Regions from separate parts of the Homo sapiens genome. Here region 2 is linked to region 1. The links come from fine-mapping of genetic effects on gene expression. Tissue or cell type: NK cells. Region 1 holds a variant in brackets; the other region holds the start of a gene. All regions are shown on one strand. Distances are from middle to middle.

Region 1 (8,256 bases):
CCTGCCTCAGCCTCCCAAGTAGCTGGGATTATAGGTGCGTGCTACCATGCCCAGCTAATTTTTTTGTATTTTTAGTAGAGACAGGGTTTTACCATGTTGGCCAAGATGGTCTTGATCTCATGATCCACCAGCCTCAGCCTCCCAAAGTGCTGGGATTACAGATGTGAGCCACCGTGCAGGGCCTTTTTTTTTTTTTGGATGGAGTTTCACTCTTGTTGCCAAGGCTGGAATGCAATGGCGTGATCTCAGCTCACTGCAACCTCTGCCTCCCAGGTTCAAGTGATTCTTCTGCCTCAGCCTCCCAAGTAGCTGCGATTACAGGCTCCAGCCACCATGCCTGGCTAATTTTTGTATTTTTAGTAGAGACAGGGTTTCGTCATGTTGGCCAGGCTGGTCTGGAACTCCTGACCTCAGGTGATCCACCTGCCTCAGCCTCCCAAAGTGCTGGGATTACAGGCATGAGCCACCATGCCTGGCTGGCCCCCGCTTTTTATAGAGATATTCTATAGGTTTGCAAGATTAACTGTTGTTATACGTAGCTGAAATGCATTCATTTTTCATTACAGTATAGTATTCCATCATGACACCCCAATTTTTTCATCCATTCTACTGCTGATGGATGTCTGGGTGACTCTAAGAGTTGGCTACTGTGAGCCATGTATTATACCTGCATCCTGGTGACCATAAGCATGGGTTTCTTTAGGGCACACATGCCTGGTATGACTTCTGGGTCACAAGATGTACATGTCTTCAACCTTTTTAGGTAACACTAGACTGTTTTCCGCAGTGGCTTTAGCAGTTTACACTCCTACCAGCAGTGTAGGAGCTCTCCAGTTGCTCTACATCCTCAGTTTTCTTTGTACTGTCTGCAGGTTTATTTGCTTATTGATTTGTTTGGGTTTTTTTTTTTTTTTTTTTGAGACAGTGTCTGATTCTGTTGCCCAGGCTGGACCATAGCTCATTGCAGCCTCAAAATCCTGGGCTGAAGCAATCCTCCTACTTCAGCCTCCTGAGTAGCTGGGACTACAGGCGCACATCACCACATCTGGCCAATTAAAAAAAAATTTTTTTTTTGAGATGGAGTCTCATTTACTCTTATCACCCAGGCTGGAGTGCAGTGGCATGATCCTGGCTCGCTGCAACCACCTTCCAGTGCAAGCGATTCTCCCGTCTCAGCCTCCCAAGTAGCTGGGATTACAGGCACCCACCATCATGCCTGGCTAATTTTTGTATTTTAGTAGAGACAGGGTTTCACCATGTTGGCCAGGCTGGTCTTGAACTCCTGACCTCAGATGATCCACCCGCCTCAGCCTCCCAAAGTGCTGGGATTATAGGTGTGAGCCACCTTGCCTGGCCTTTTATTTATTTTTAAGACGCGGTCTCTCTGTTGCCCAGCCTGGAGTACAGTGGTGCCATCATAGCTCACTGCAGCCTCGAACTCCTGGGCTCAAGAAATTTTTCACACCTCAGCTTCCAAGGTGGCTGGGATTTCTGGGTATGTGCCATCACACCCCGCCTTTTTTTCAGTTTAAATTTTATTTTATTTATTTATTTTTTGAGACAGAGTCTCACTTTGTCACCCAGGCTGGAGTGCACTGGCACCATCTTGGTTCACTGCAACCTCTACCTTCTGGGTTCAAGCAATCCTCCTGCCTCAGCCTCCCTAGTAGCTGGGATTACAGGCACACACCACCACGCCCGGCTAATTTTTGTATTTTTGGTAGAGATGGAGTTTCGCCATGTTGGCCAGGATGGTCCAGAACTCCTTGCCTCAAGTGATCCATCTGCCTCAGCCTCCCAAAGTGTGAGGATTACAGGCATGAGCCACTGTGCCCGGCCTTTTTCAAAAAAATTTTACAAGTGAGGATATATCTTTTTCCTCTAAGAACAGTTCTAATTGCAGAATGGCTAGGTCAAAAGATAGATGCATTTAGAATTTTGGCAGGTTCTGCTGGTTGCCCTTCACAAAGGTTGCACGATTCATCCCTTACCAGTAGACAGGGTGTGAGGGTGCTCTTCCCTATCTTTGCAACACTGGGTATCACCAAGCTCTTGAGATGAAATGTGACTTCCTCTTATTTTGATTTCCATTTCTGTGACAGATTTATTAATTCATTTGGGAGTCTCCAACTAGTCTTCTTTTTCTCTCTTCTTTTCCTTTTTTTTTTTTTTTTTTTTAAGACAGGGTCTCCTCTGTTGCCCAGGCTAGAGTGCAGTGGTAGAATCTTAGTTCACTGACTGCAGCCTCCACTTCCCAGGCTCAAGCAATCATCCCACCTCGGCCTCCGAGTAGCTGGGGCTACAGACGCATAGCACCACACCCAGCTAATTAAAAAAAAATTTTTTTTTTTTGAGACAGAGTTTCACTCTCGTCACCCAGGTTGGAGTGCAATGGTACCATCTCGGCTCACTGCAACCTCTGCCTCCTGGGTTCAAGAGATTCTCCTGCCTCAGCCTCCTGAGTAGCTGGGATTACAGGTGCCCACCGGCACACTCAGCTAATTTTTGTATTTTAAGTAGAGACCGGGTTTCACCATGTTGGCCAGGCTGGTCTTGAATTCCTGACCTCAGGTGATCCACCCACCTTGGCCTCCCAAAGTGCTGGGATTATAGGCATGAGCCACTGCGCCGGCCTAAAAAAATTTTTTTGTAGAGAAGGGGCAGGTGGGCAGGTCACTTGAGGCTAGGAGGAGTTCCAGACCAGCCTGGCCAACATGGTGAAATCTTGTCTCTATTAAAAATACAAAAATTAGCCAGGCGTGGTGGCATGCTCCTGTAGTCCCAGCTACTCAGGACACTGAGGCAGGAGAATCGCTTGAACCTGGGAGGTAGAGGTTGTAGTGAGCCGAGATCACACCACTACACTCCAGCCTGAGCAACAGAGACTCTGTCTCAAAAAAAAAGAAAAGAAAAAATATACACACACACATACTGCCCCTGAAATTCTACAACTCTACTTACAGAAATGTATTATAAGGATAACTAATTAAGTATAATTAACAAAGCATTGCTTGAGAGAGCAAAAGATGAAACAGCAACCTAAATTATTTGGCCCTGGGGGCTGTTTCACACACTGGGCAGAGCCTTGACCTTGGCCACTCCCTCCAAGCTCCAGCAGAGTCCTCCACACAGTGGCCTCTCCCTGGATGAGGACACTGAACATATGCTGGTGTCAGCAGTCATGAAAGTGAGCCTTAACACCAGCTGCATCTAGAGGAGGAGAGGTGAGATTGTAAGTGGCTTTCGCTCTATTTAATACATTCTTGTATCACTTGAATTTTTTCATCTTTTAAGCATTTAGGTATCTTTTTTTTGTTTTTGGTTTTGTTTTGACACAGAGTCTTGCTTCGTCACCCAGACTGGAGTGCAGTGGCACGATCTCAGCTCACTGAAATCTCCACCTCCCGAGTTTAAGCAATTCTCCTGCCTTAGCCTCCGGAGTGGAGTAGCTGGGACTACAGGCACCCGCCAGTATGCCCGGCTAATTTTTGTAGTTTTAGTAGAGATAGGGTTTCACCATGTTGGCCAGGCTGGTCTGGAACTCCTGATCTTAAGTGATCTGCCTTCCTCGGCCCTCCAAAGTGCTGAGATTACAGGTGAGGGCCACCACACCTGGCTTAAGCATTAGATATCTTTTGTAATCAGAAAAGAAACATTATTAAACAATTTTTGGGCCTAGTGCAATGGCTCATGCTTATAATCCCAGCACTTTGGGAAACCAAGGCAGGAGGATCACTTGAGCTAGGGGATAGCAAGGGCAACACAGCGAGACCCCGTCACCACATACACACAGACACACACAAATACAAATTAGCTGACTGTGGGC[C/T]GGGCATGGTGGCTCATGCCTATAATCCCAGCACTTTGGGAGGCCGACGCAGGCGGATCATGAGGTCAGGAGATTGAGACCATCCTGGCTAACACAGTGAAACCCCGTCTCCACTAAAAATACAAAAACTTAGCGTGGCAGGGTGGCGGGCGCCTGTAGTCCCAGCTACTCGGGAGGCTGAGGCAGAATAGCGTGAACCTGGGAGGTGGAGCTTGCAGTGAGCCGAGATCGTGCCACTTAACTCCAGCCTGGGTGACAGAGCGAGACTCTGTCTCAAAAAAAAAAAAAAAAAAATTAGTTGGGTGTGGTGGTACATGCCTTGTTGTCCCAGCTACTGGGGAGGCTGAGTTGGGAGGCTTGCTTGAGCCTGAGAGGTGGAGGCCACAGTGAGCTGTGATCATGCCGCTATACTCCAGCCTTGGCAACAAAGTGAGACCCTGTGTATTTGTTTTTGTTTTTCTTTGTGACAGAGTCTCCCTCTGTCACCCAGGCTGGAGTTCGGTGGCTTGATCTCAGCTCACTGCAACCTCTACCTCCTGGGTTCCAGCAATTCTCCTGCCTCAGCCTCCCAGGTAGCTGGGACTACAGGCGCCTGCCACCATGCCCAGCTAATTTGTGTATTTTTAGTAGAGACAGGGTTTCACCACGTTGGCCAGGCTGGTCTCGAACTCCTGACTTCAGGTGATCCGCCTGCCTCAGCCTCCCAAAGTGCTGGGATTACAGGTGTGAGCCACCGTGGCCAGCTAATTTTTGTATTTTTTAGTAGAGATGGGGTTTCGCCATGTTGGCCAGGCTGGTCTCAAACTCCTGACCTCATGATCTGCCTGCCTCAGCCTCCCAAAGTGCTGGGATTACAGGCGTGAGCCACCACGCCCAGCCTGAGACCCTGTCTTAATTAAAATATATATATATATATTGTGGCTGAGCACGGTGGCTCACGCCTGTAATCCCAGCACTTTGGGAGGCCGAGGCAGGTGGATCACCTGAGCTCAGGAGTTCGAGACCAGCCTGGCCAACATGGCGAAACCCTGTCTCTACTAAAAATACAAATATTAGCCTGGCATGGTGGCACGTGCCTGTAGTCCCAGCCACTAGGGGGGCTGAGGCAGGAGGATCACTTGAACTCAGGAGGCAGAGATTGCAGTGAGCCAAGATTGTGCACTGCACTCCAGCCTGGGCGACAGAGTAAGACTCCATCTCGAAAAAATAAATAAATAAAAATTATTGTTTGATCCTTTCGTAGTTTATAAGAGTGATGATTAGGTCTTCATGCTCATGTGTGAAATGTGCCTCCCTCAAACCATGTTAGGACGTTGGCATATTGCCCATCTGAAATGAAAAAAAGTTTTTGTTATATAAATATGTTGGCTGGGTGTGGTGGCACATGCTTGTAATCCCAGCACTTTGGGAGGCTGAGGCAGGTGGATCACCTGAGGTCAGGAGTTCAACACCAGACTGACCAACATGGCAAAACCCCGTCTCTACTAAAAATACATAAATTAGGCAGGTGTGGTGGCATGCACCTGTAGTCCCAGCTACTTGGGAGGCTGAGGCAGGAGAATCACTTGAACCCGCCACTGCTCTCCAGCTTGGGCAACAGAGCAAGACTCCATCTGAAAAAAAAATTTGTTGGCTGGCCAGGCGCAGTGGCTCACATCTGTAATCCCAGCACTTTGGGAGGCTGAGGCAGGTGGATCACCTGAGGTCAGGAGTTCGAGACCAGCCTGACCAATATGGTAAAATCCCATCTTTACTAAAAATACAAAATTAGCCGGGCATGGTGGCGCATGCCTGTAATCCCAGCTACTCGGGAGGCTGAGACAGGAGAATCACTTGAACCCGGGAGGTGGAAGTTGCAGTGACCCGAGATTGTGCCATTGCACTCCAGCCTGGGCAATAAGAGTGAAACTCCATCTCAAAAAAGAAAAAAATTGTTGGCGGATAAGGGAGATGTTCATATTCATGTGACAACACAGTTGAAGTAAAAATCCACCATATACAAACAGTATGCAGTTTGTGTATCCCATTTACAAAATATGTGTGCATAGGCTAAAATTCACAATTGATATCCCATGTTAATGGTGCCTGTCTCTGGGTAGTGGGTTTATGGGTGATTTTTATTTTCTGTATATCTGTAATTATAACTTTTCTATAATAAAGGCTTTTATTACTTTTATATTAAAAGCAGCTGTTGGTAAGAAATCCCCCAGCAGAGTGTATGGGCAGAAGGGCTGAGGAGACGGCACAGGCAGGGAGAAGGGCAGGGTCCCTGGGCCCCCACCCCCACATGGGGCAGGGAGGAGGATGGAGGGCAGCCAGGAGTGATGGACTGTGGGAAGGGCCAGGTCCCAAGAGTCAGGGAGTGCTGCTGTGGGAAAGGGAGCTGGGACAGATGCAGCCCAGAGCCGGGGGAGCCCTAGCGGGACGCAAGAAGCAGGAAAGGGGTGGCTGGGCCAGAGCATGCGGGGCCGTGGCGGGTGGGGGCTCACCGTCACCTCCTGGTAGGATTCCATGCCATTCAGCACCACCTGGATAACCTGCCGGCGCAGCTTCACACTCTGCTCTGAGCGGTACTCGGAATTTGTTAGGTAGAAGAGAGCGGCGCTGCCTGTCACTTGAATGTTCCTGTCATATTTGTGGCACTTGAGGGCCGTGATGACCAGCTGTATGAAGACAAGGGGGACCTGGGCTGGCAAGTGCAGGGAGAGGCCTGGGCTCTGCAAGGGGCTGGAACAGGCTCTCTGGGGCAAGGTTTAGCCTGGTCTTGCTCTCTAAAGGCAGAAGTGGGGCCTGGGGAGCAGACACCAGGGTGGGGACCAAACAAGGCCAGTGCTGAAGCAAGTCAAGTGCTGTGAGGCCCAGGCTGGGGTTCGGGTCCTGGGGCCCTGGGGACAGGGTGCAGAAGGACACAGGCTCTGGGGACACGGCTCAGCCAAGCCCGGCAACCTCCAGGTGGGGAGGGACAGGAGGCCAAGGCCCCAGGCTTGGAGCTGACCTTCAGGGCCCGCAGCAGCTGGTTGCAACGCTCGATGCGGGCGATGTCAAAAAGCAAGTTGATGGCCCGCGAGGTGATCTCAGGCCGGTGCTCCGTGTAGGCCTCGATGGCATTCAGCACCTGCTCTTCGTTTTTGTCACCACTTACCTGCGGGTGGGACACGCTCAGAACAACCCAGCAGAGGCCAAGGGCTGGGATGCCAGATCCCAGCTCAGTCTCCAGCCCCAGAATCCAGCTCCTTCTCTCTCCCAAGGCTCCCTGGCCCAGACCCATCCCACTTCCACTGCTCACTTTGTAGGCTGGAATGTGCGTGAGGCGGCACAGAGAGTTCTCAAAGAGCCCGAGGAACTGCAGCGGCCTCTTCAGAGCCCGGAAAGGTATGATGCTGCTCTTGGAAGGCTCAATGCTGGGGAAAGAGGGTGCCGGTGTCAGTGGCTTGGGACCCAGGCCTGAGCTGGGCCTCCCCACTGGGGGTGGTGAGGCATTTCCTTGCTTTCTCTTCTAGGCCCTCCAACCTCATCCCCTACTCCTTTTGTTTTTAATGGTAGGGGACATAAGCACCACCTCCTGATGGAAGCATGGCAAAGCCACATAGTAGGGGAACACATAGGATGGGCAATGCAGCCACCTTTAGAAACCACCTGCCATTCTAGTAAGGACATGGCACCTTTAGGTCTCACCAACAATCACAAAGGGACAAGCTCAACTGAACACCATTAAAGCAGGCTGGGGCCAGGGCTTATGGGTGGCCAGTTACAGCTGGTAGGGTTTGGTCAAACTTCTCAACCAACCAATCCAAGAACCGACCTATGTCCAGCAATACTCCATAGGTGGCAGACACTGCCAGCCTTGCCTCTTCCCCCCATGGCACTGTGCTCTGGTCAGGCTGAGTGTTGGGTAGTTCCCCTGTCGCTCCTCATGCTCTCACCTACTGGCCTTTGCAGGTGCTGTTCCCTCTGCTAGAACACGCTTCCTCTGGCAGAGGCAGAATGAGCTTTCAGGACAGCCAGGATGCGTCCCTCCTCCTCCTTCCTTCCTGATCCTCAGGCCACACCGGGGCCCTGGATTGCCCCTACCATAGCCCTTGTAATGACTTGATTGTCCCCACCAGCTCACACAGCCTCCAAGAGGGCAGGACCTGATTTGTTTCTTTATCTCTAGCACCCAGCACAGCACTTGGCAGAGGGGTACTTGGCAAATACTTTCTTTTTTTTTTTTTTTGAGACAAAGTCCCACTTTGTTGCCTAGGCTGGAGTGCAGTGGCGCGATCTCAGCTCACTGCAGGCTCCGCCTCCCGGCTTCAATTCTCATACCTTAGCCTCCCAAGTAGCTGGGACTACAGGTGTCTGCCACCATGTCCAGCTAAATTTTGTATTTTTAGTAGAAATGGGGTTTCACCATGTTGGCCAGGCTGGTCTCTAACTCCTGGCCTCAA
Region 2 (8,000 bases), 45 kb before region 1:
GGGCTTTGTCCATGTTGGTCAGGCTGGTCTTGAACTCCCGACCTTACGTGATCCGCCCGCCTCGGCCTCTCAAAGTGTTGGGATTACAGGCGAGCCGCCGCGCCCAGTGAGTTATAGTCTTTTAAAGGCCAACTGGCTAGAGAGTTGGTTTGCACTATTCACGGTCCACTAAATGCTGAACACGAATTTCCTAAGAATTCCAGTCTTATGAAGTGTTATCACTATCAGAAGTAAGGTGCAACTACCTGGTCAGACTCATCCAGCAGTCCAGGACTTGGCTTCCCTGTGTAAGGTGGTGAAAAACACTCCCCAGGTCGGGCGCGGCAGCCACACCTGTAATCCCAGCACTTTGGTAGGCTGAGGCAGGTGCATCACGTGAGGTCAGGAGTTCGAGACTGGCCTGGCCAACATGGTGAAACCCCATCTCTACTAAAAATATAAAAAATTAGCCAGGTGTGCCGAGCGCGGTGGCTCCCGCCTGTAATCCCAGCACTTTGAGAGGCCGAGGCGAGCAGATCACAAGGTCAGAAGATCGAGACCATCCTGGCTAACACAGTGAAACCCCGTCTCTACTAAAAATACAAAAATTAGCCGGGCGTGGTGGTGGGCGCCTGTAGTCCCAGCTACTCGGGAGGCTGAGGCAGGAGAATGGCGTGAACCCTGGAGGCGGAGCTTGCAGTGAGCCGAGATCAGCCACTACACTCTAGCCTGGGCGAAAGTGCGAGACTCCGTCTCAAAGAAAAAAAAAAAAAAAAAAAAATTAGCCAGGTGTGGTGGCATGTGCCTGTAGTCCCAGCTACTCAGGAGGCTGAGGCATGAGAATCACTTGGACCCGGGAGGTGGAGGTTGCAGTGAGCCAAAATTGAGCCACTGCACTCCAGCCTGGGTGACAGAGCAAGACTCTCTCAAAAAAACAAAAAACAAAGCCACTTTCCAACCAAACTTGGAAAACCATCGAATTCAGCTTCCTGCCTGCAGTGAGTGGATAAATGAGCCGGGAGTTGAGATGTGAGCACCCTCCTATGGAGAGTTATCTCAGATTACTCTTGGCTTCCAGAAGTAACATTTAGCCATCAAGGCAAATACACATTTTAAAGTGTTAATTAGCTGGCTGGACTGATTGCACCACTGGAGAATTCCTAAAAGGTGGGGAAGGCTTGTTAGTTTGATTCCTGGGTTTTTGATGAGCTGCAGTGAGAAGCTGAGGACTTTTTTACTTCTTTATTTTACTTTTTTAAGAGATGGTGTCTCACTATGTTGGCCAGGTTGGTCTTGAACTCTTAGGCCTCAAGCAATCCTCCTGCCTCATCAGCCTCCCAGAGTTCTAGGATTACAGGCATGAGCCACTGGGCTTGGTCAGCCTTTTTGCTTCTAAATGATGGATAATAACGTTCATTTAACCTCCATTTTATTTTATTTTTATTTATTTATTTTTCTTGAGACAGAATCTTGCTCTGTTGCCCAGGCTGGAGTGTAGTGGCGTGATCTTAGCTCGCTGCAACCTCTGCCTCCCAGATTCAGGTGATTTGCCTGCCTCAGCCTCCCGAGTAGCTGGGACTACAGGCGTGCGCTACCACGCCCAGCTAGTTTTTCTAATTTTTTATTTTATGTATTTTTTTGAGATGCAGTTTTGCTCTTGTCATCTAGGCTGGAGTGTAGTGGCGAGATTGGCTTACTGCAACCTCCACTTCCCAGGTTCAAGTGATTCTCCAGCCTCAGCCTCCCTAGTAGCTGGGATTACAGGCACCCACCACCATGCCCAGCTAATATTTTTTTTTTGTAGTTTTAGTAGAGACGGGGTTTCACCATGTTGGCCAGGCTGGTCTCGAACTCCTGACCTTGTGATCCGCCTGCCTCGGCCTCCCAAAGTGCTAGGATTACAGGCGTGAGCCACCGCGCCCAGCTGCCTTTTTAATTTTTTTTTAGCAGAGACGGGATTTCACCATGTTGGCCAGGCTGGTCTTGAACTCCTGACCTTAAGTGATCTGCCCTCCTCAGCCTCCCAAAGTGCTGGGATTACAGGCATGAGCCACCATGCCCAGCCAACCCCCATGTCAAAGAACCTACTATGTGCCAGGTGCTTCTGCTAATGTCTAGACCTCAACAACTCTAATGTGTAAATGTCACATTTCGCCTCTGATTATGAAATCTGGGCATGTTTCACAGAGCCAAGTTGCCTTTGCTTATATGTCAATGCCACTTGGGTGATTTCCCATAGCAGGACAACCCAGTGTTGTCCATGGCTCACCAATTTCACTTTTTTCCAGTCCATTATGAAGGAAGTGATTAGTGCAAAGCACAACATGTGGCTTCCTTCATTCAGTAAGAGCACCAGAGCCTGTCTGTTCCAAGTCACTGTCGGTATTTGACCCTTCATCACCTTCCCACCTCCTGGAGGACGCTCCTCCACGAAGTGCTGACACAACCTCCTGTAAACGCAGGATGCCAGGACGGGCTGAATGGCCCGCCATAGACTAGGCAGTGACCAGCACACCTCCCTTGGGCTGAAATAGTGGCGGCTATTTCACCAGGTGTAAATGGCTTTTCTCCCGTGTGGATGGATGGGCTTTTTAGGGTAAAGCCCTAAAAAGTGGCACGGGCTGAACCAGCAAGCTCAGTCTGAGTAAGAGATGGGCCGGAGAGAGGTCTGGTTCATTCATCTGTAATTTGTAATTTATCATAATTTTGGGTGAGGATTTACTTTTCCACAAGTATACGTTCTTTTTTTTTTTTTTTTTTTTTTTTTGAGATGGAGTCTCGCTCTGTCACCCAGGTTGGAGGGCAGTGGCAGGATCTCGGCTCACTGCAACCTCCGCCTACTGGGTACAAGTGATTCTCCCACCTCAGCCTCCTGAGTAGCTGGGATTACAGGCGCCCGCCACCACGACCGGCTAATTTTTGTATTTTTAGTAGAGACGGGGGTTTCACCATGTTGGCCAGGCTGGTCTCGAACTCCTGACCTCGTGATCCGTCCACCTCTGCCTCCCAAACTGCTGGGATTACAGGCGTGAGCCACCGCACCTGGCCTAGTATACATTCTTGTAGTGACTAATATCTAGTCTGGGCCAACCACTCCGAGGAGAGAGACAATTTTGGATTAGCCCACATTACACCAACAACGTGCGAGACAAAGAGAGACTTGAGGGGCTTGGTCGAGGAGGCCCAGCGCGTTAGAGGCGGGAGCCAGGTTGTAGAGGGGCTCAAAGTTAGAGGAGGCGGCCAGCTCCACCGGCTGCACCCGGCTGGGCGACCCGGCAACCTTCAGGGGGCGCTGTTTCCCCCATCCCTGTCCCTAACTGGCCGGCTCCCGCGGGCGCGCGGCGGGGAAGGCCAGAGGACCTGGGCGCGGGCGATGTGCCTCCTGAGCGTCCAAACCGGGGGTGAGGCGCGGTCACGCCCAGCGGGAACCGCAGGCGCCGAAGCCCGGGTACTGGGCCCAGAATCCCGCGGAATTTTGGATCCGAGGGAGGCGCTGGGGCGCGGGACCTCGGGCGTGGGGTCCCGGGCGCTGGATCGGCGCGGACGGGAGGCGGCGCTGGTCCCGCGGGCCAGCGGGTCTCGGGAGGGGGCGCCCGATCCCGCGTCTCCGGCGCCGCTTCCCGGGAAGTTTCAAGTTTGAAAGTCCTGGCGGAGGGTCTGCGGCTTCCGGGACCGGAGTGGCTGAGAGAAGGGCCCCAAGCGGCCGGAGCGGCGCCATGGAGGAGGGGGCGCCGCGGCAGGTGAACGGCGTGGGAGGGGCGCGCGGGCCCGGGGGGTGCGAGAAAGCCTCTGTCATCGCCCCGGAGCCCCGAACCGCGGCCGCTTCCCCCGATCCTCCCCTCACCCGCGCCCCTTCCCTGCCCCTGCCCTGGCCCCGGCCCCGCGACGCCCTCGCAGAGCAGACCTGATCTCCGGGTTCGGTGGTTCCTGGACCTTGCACAGTCTCCAAATCAGTCCGCGGCTGACCCGGAGACTGAACCCCAACCAGCCCGTGAGCGAGGACGGCTGAGTCCGCAGTGTGCGCCACCAGGGTGGTCCCCAGAGTGTCCTTAAGTCGGTTCTCCTCGGTGGGGCTCCAAGGCCGACGGGAATTAGCCGGGATAGAAAGGCGGGGCACAGGGGCCTGGGGGGGTTAGAATGTGCGCGCAGCGGGGGGCGCAGTCTGTGCGCGCTTGGCAGTGGCAGGAGTCCTTCCCGGAGCACAGGAGGCACGAGGGGAGCGTAGATGAGAGGGGAGCGGCCTCCCCCGCCCCAGGGCGGGAACCTTTGGGTACATAGCGGGTTCTAGAATGCGGAGGGGGCTGGGTTTCCTGCCAGAGCTGGCAGTAGGTGCGCGTGGGCCCGGAGGACCGAGGCCATGTCTATCTGCTCCTGAGGAGGGAGAGGTGGTGTCCTGTTCCGGAGCGAGTGGTTGGGAGGGGGGCATTTGCGGACAGGAGTGGGTCCCCGCAAAGAGCGGAAAGGAGGTGGTGTGTGTGTCCATGTTGGAGTTCCAACCCAGGGCAGACGGGACCATGGGGGTGTTGCGGGGTGCGTGTAGACTCCTTGAGCGCCCAAGCCAGTCGTTTAGGCCGCCTTCAGGGCTGGGGCTCGGTCTGCCCCCTCCCACCCCCTTCCTCTGGAGGTCCCTCCGCCTGTTCCAGACGTAGCTTGTACACATTTTCCGATTTCCTGCGGGGCTCCGCCCTGCAGCGGCAGCTGGGTGACTCAGGACCCCGGTGGCCGGGCCCCCAGCTCCATGGGACCTTTGTTTGCTCCGGTCTTTGGCTCTGGCCCTGTGGCCTAGGGCGGTCAGAGGATTTCCTGAGCCTCGCCCTTGCCCTCTGACAGCTGGGCCAGCAGGCCCCGCTGAGGTCTGGGGTGGGGGGGTCCCTGAGTCTGGGGTTGCGGCCCCTTCCACTGGGCTCAGGAGAAGATGGAACACAGAGAGGTAAGATGGGGTTCCTGCAACAGCCCGTGTTGCGGGGCATCATGGGTTACCCGGCCTGAGGTCACCTTTGGCACCGGTTGGTTTGAAATGCTGGCGGCTGGAAAGGAGGTGTTCCTGTTCCTGGCTCCAACCTGGGTGAAGCCGTGAGAGAGCCTTCTACTTCCTCCCGGGAGCTGAGCAGGGAGTGGGCACCCGGAGACCTCCCCAGTTCCTCTCTGTGCCTCTGCTTTGCTACCTGTGGCATTGGGACATCAGGGGAACAAGCCCTGGCTCCCAGGCCCCTGGCTGCCTTCTCATGTGGCTTCGTGTGAACCCCTATTCGGCGTAGCTTTTGTGGCTCCTGGACTCTACTTTGGGTCCCAGATGTAGAGAGAGCAGCCTGATTACCCAGGGCTGCCAGGGACAGCTGGGGCCCGAGAGATGGTGGCCCCTCCTCTGTGTCTTGACTGTGGGCAAGTTACTTCACCTCTCTGGGCCTCAGTTTCCTCACTAGAAAATAGGGGTAATAGTACAGGCGTGGTGGCTCACACCTGTAATCCCAGCACTTTGGGAGGCCAAGGCAGGTGGATCACCTGAGGTCAGGATTCAAGACCAGCCTGACGAACATGGAGAAACCCCGTCCCTACTAAAAATACAAAATTAGCCGGGCTTAGTGGCGTGTGCCTGTAATCCCAGCTACTCAGGAGGCTGGGGCAGGAGAATCGCTTGAACCCGGGAGGCAGAGGTTGTGGTGAACCGAGATCGTGCCATGGCACTCCAGCCTGGGCAACAAGAGCAAAACTGTCTCAAAAAAAAAAAAAAGAAAAAGAAAAAGAAAAAAGAAAATGGGGGTAATGACCACCGCTACCGGGTGGGGTGGCTGGGAGGAGTGATGTGGTAATATATGCAAAGCACTTAGAATAGAACCTGGCACCCATTTACCGTGTGAACTGTCCCCCCCGCCACATCCTTCTCTAACGGGCGGAGGACAGGAGCCTGGCCTAGATGAGTGGCCTCGGAGTTTCCATCTGGCTCAGGCCTGAGCTCTAAGGGGAGAGAGGCTTCCAAAACCCTGTGCGAGTCAGTCCTGGGTGCCGTCCCTTCCTTCGCCTCCATCTGCAGTGAGCAAAGGCTGCTGGTGGCCGCTGCACCCCATGGCTGTTCTCCACCCTCTGCTTTCCACCGGCTCTGCAGCCTGGGCCGAGCCAGTGGCCCCCAGAGGATGAGAAGGAGGTGATCCGCCGGGCCATCCAGAAAGAGCTGAAGATCAAGGAGGGGGTGGAGAACCTGCGGCGCGTGGCCACAGACCGCCGCCACTTGGGCCATGTGCAGCAGCTGCTGCGGTCCTCCAACCGCCGCCTGGAGCAGCTGCATGGCGAGCTGCGGGAGCTGCACGCCCGAATCCTGCTGCCCGGCCCTGGGCCTGGCCCAGCTGGTGAGTGAGGAGCTGAGACCCCCTCAGGACAGAAGGCTCTAGGCCCATCTGGCCCCTGGCCTTGGCCCTGGCCACTGTGGCGAGACCACCTCATTTCCTGCCTATAGATCAGTAGGGGAAGGAGGAAAGGCCACAGTGGGGGTCTCGGCTCTGGGTGAGGGACTCCTGTGCTCGATACCCCCGTGCACAGAGCCTGTGGCCTCAGGACCCCGGCCGTGGGCAGAGCAGCTCAGGGCTCGGCACCTAGAGGCTCTCCGGAGGCAGCTGCATGTGGAGCTGAAGGTGAAGCAGGGGGCTGAGAACATGACCCACACGTGCGCCAGTGGCACCCCCAAGGTAAGGCCCCACAGTCTGATGGCAGGAGCACCCTGGCCCCTGGTCTGACAGGGAAATGCACCTCAGCCATTGGGCTCATAAGGAGACACCATTCCAGCCTGCAGCCTGATGGGGAAAATACAGCCCCAAACCCCAGCTGGGTGAGGAAGGCATGGCTGTAGTCTCTAGTGTGACAGAGAAGGCCTTGCCCTGGTCTAATGGGATCCTAGCCCAGCCCCAGTCCCAACTCCCAGCATGATGTCCAGAACTGGGCCTCAGTCCTTGTCTGACAAGAAGACTTGGCTGTGGCCCTGATATGATGACGGAGGCAGGACCTTAGCCTTGATCTAATGGGGGAGGCTTAGCTTAGCCCCTGCCCTGATCTGATGGGGGAGGCTTATCCCCAGCCCTGATCTGATGGGAGAGGCTTAGCTTAGCCCCTGCCCTCATCTAATGGGGGAGGCTTAGCTTAGCCCCTGCCCTGATCTGATGGGGGAAGCATCAACCCTGCTCTGATGGGGGAGGCATGACCACAGCCCTGATCTGATGGGGGAGAGTTAGCCCCAGCCCTGATCTGATGGGGGAGAGTTAGCCCCAGCCCTGATCTGATGGGAGAGGCATGACCCCAGCCGTGATATGAAAGAGGAAATTTGACCCCAGCCCTTGTTGGTCAGATGGAAAAGGCTCCCCTGACCCACCAACTAGTCCAACAAGGGAGGCTTGACTTTAGTGTTTGGCCTAGAGGTTTCACTTTAACCCTGTTTTGATGGGGGAGACCCGGCTCCAGTTCCTGGTCTGATGGGGGAAGCTGTGGCCCAGGCCTGGTCTGATGGGCCTGTGCTATGGCTCCATAGGAGAGGAAGCTCCTGGCAGCTGCCCAGCAGATGCTGCGGGACAGCCAGCTGAAGGTGGCCCTGCTGCGGATGAAGATCAGCAGCCTGGAGGCCAGTGGGTCCCCGGAGCCAGGTGAGGCCTTGAGACACAGGGAGGGCGGAGCAGGGAAGAGCAGGGCCTGAGAGCCGCCGTCCTTCCCACAGGGCCTGAGCTGCTGGCGGAGGAGCTACAGCATCGACTGCACGTTGAGGCAGCTGTGGCTGAGGGCGCCAAGAACGTGGTGAAACTGCTTAGTAGCCGGAGAACACAGGACCGCAAGGCACTGGCTGAGGTCAGGCCCCAGCCCTGGCCCTCTCCTAAGGCTGGCTTGTTCCCATACCACCCTCAGCAGGGGTGTGAAGGGAGGGTGGCCGTGTAAAAGCAGGACTTCTCTGTTGAGACTTCATGCGGAAGGTGGCTCCGGGTGACCTGGGCTGCTGCCCCCTGCCATATACCCCACGAACCTGGCTCTACGTTGTCCCCTCTGCA

What was found. PIP is the estimated chance that this variant, and not a neighbour inherited with it, causes the effect.
Region 2: it holds the start of PKN3, and the variant in region 1 is fine-mapped to the expression of PKN3 in NK cells (Schmiedel 2018, PIP 0.95).

What each region holds. Positions count from the first base shown.
Region 1 is chr9:128,744,301-128,752,556 of GRCh38, forward strand. ZER1 (zyg-11 related cell cycle regulator) reads right to left here. Exons shown (of 16, transcript NM_006336.4): 6 at 7,113-7,227; 7 at 6,822-6,968; 8 at 6,316-6,489. LOC124902340 (small nucleolar RNA U13) reads left to right here and starts at 5,058; the gene lies at 5,058-5,161. The variant C/T (reference allele first, on the strand shown) is at 3,827.
Region 2 is chr9:128,699,221-128,707,220 of GRCh38, forward strand. It overlaps PKN3 (protein kinase N3), which reads left to right and starts at 3,283. Exons shown (of 22, transcript NM_013355.5): 1 at 3,283-3,719; 2 at 6,083-6,323; 3 at 6,514-6,659; 4 at 7,493-7,604; 5 at 7,676-7,803. The coding sequence starts at 3,696. RefSeq lists a silencer at 3,176-3,745 and an enhancer at 3,560-4,099.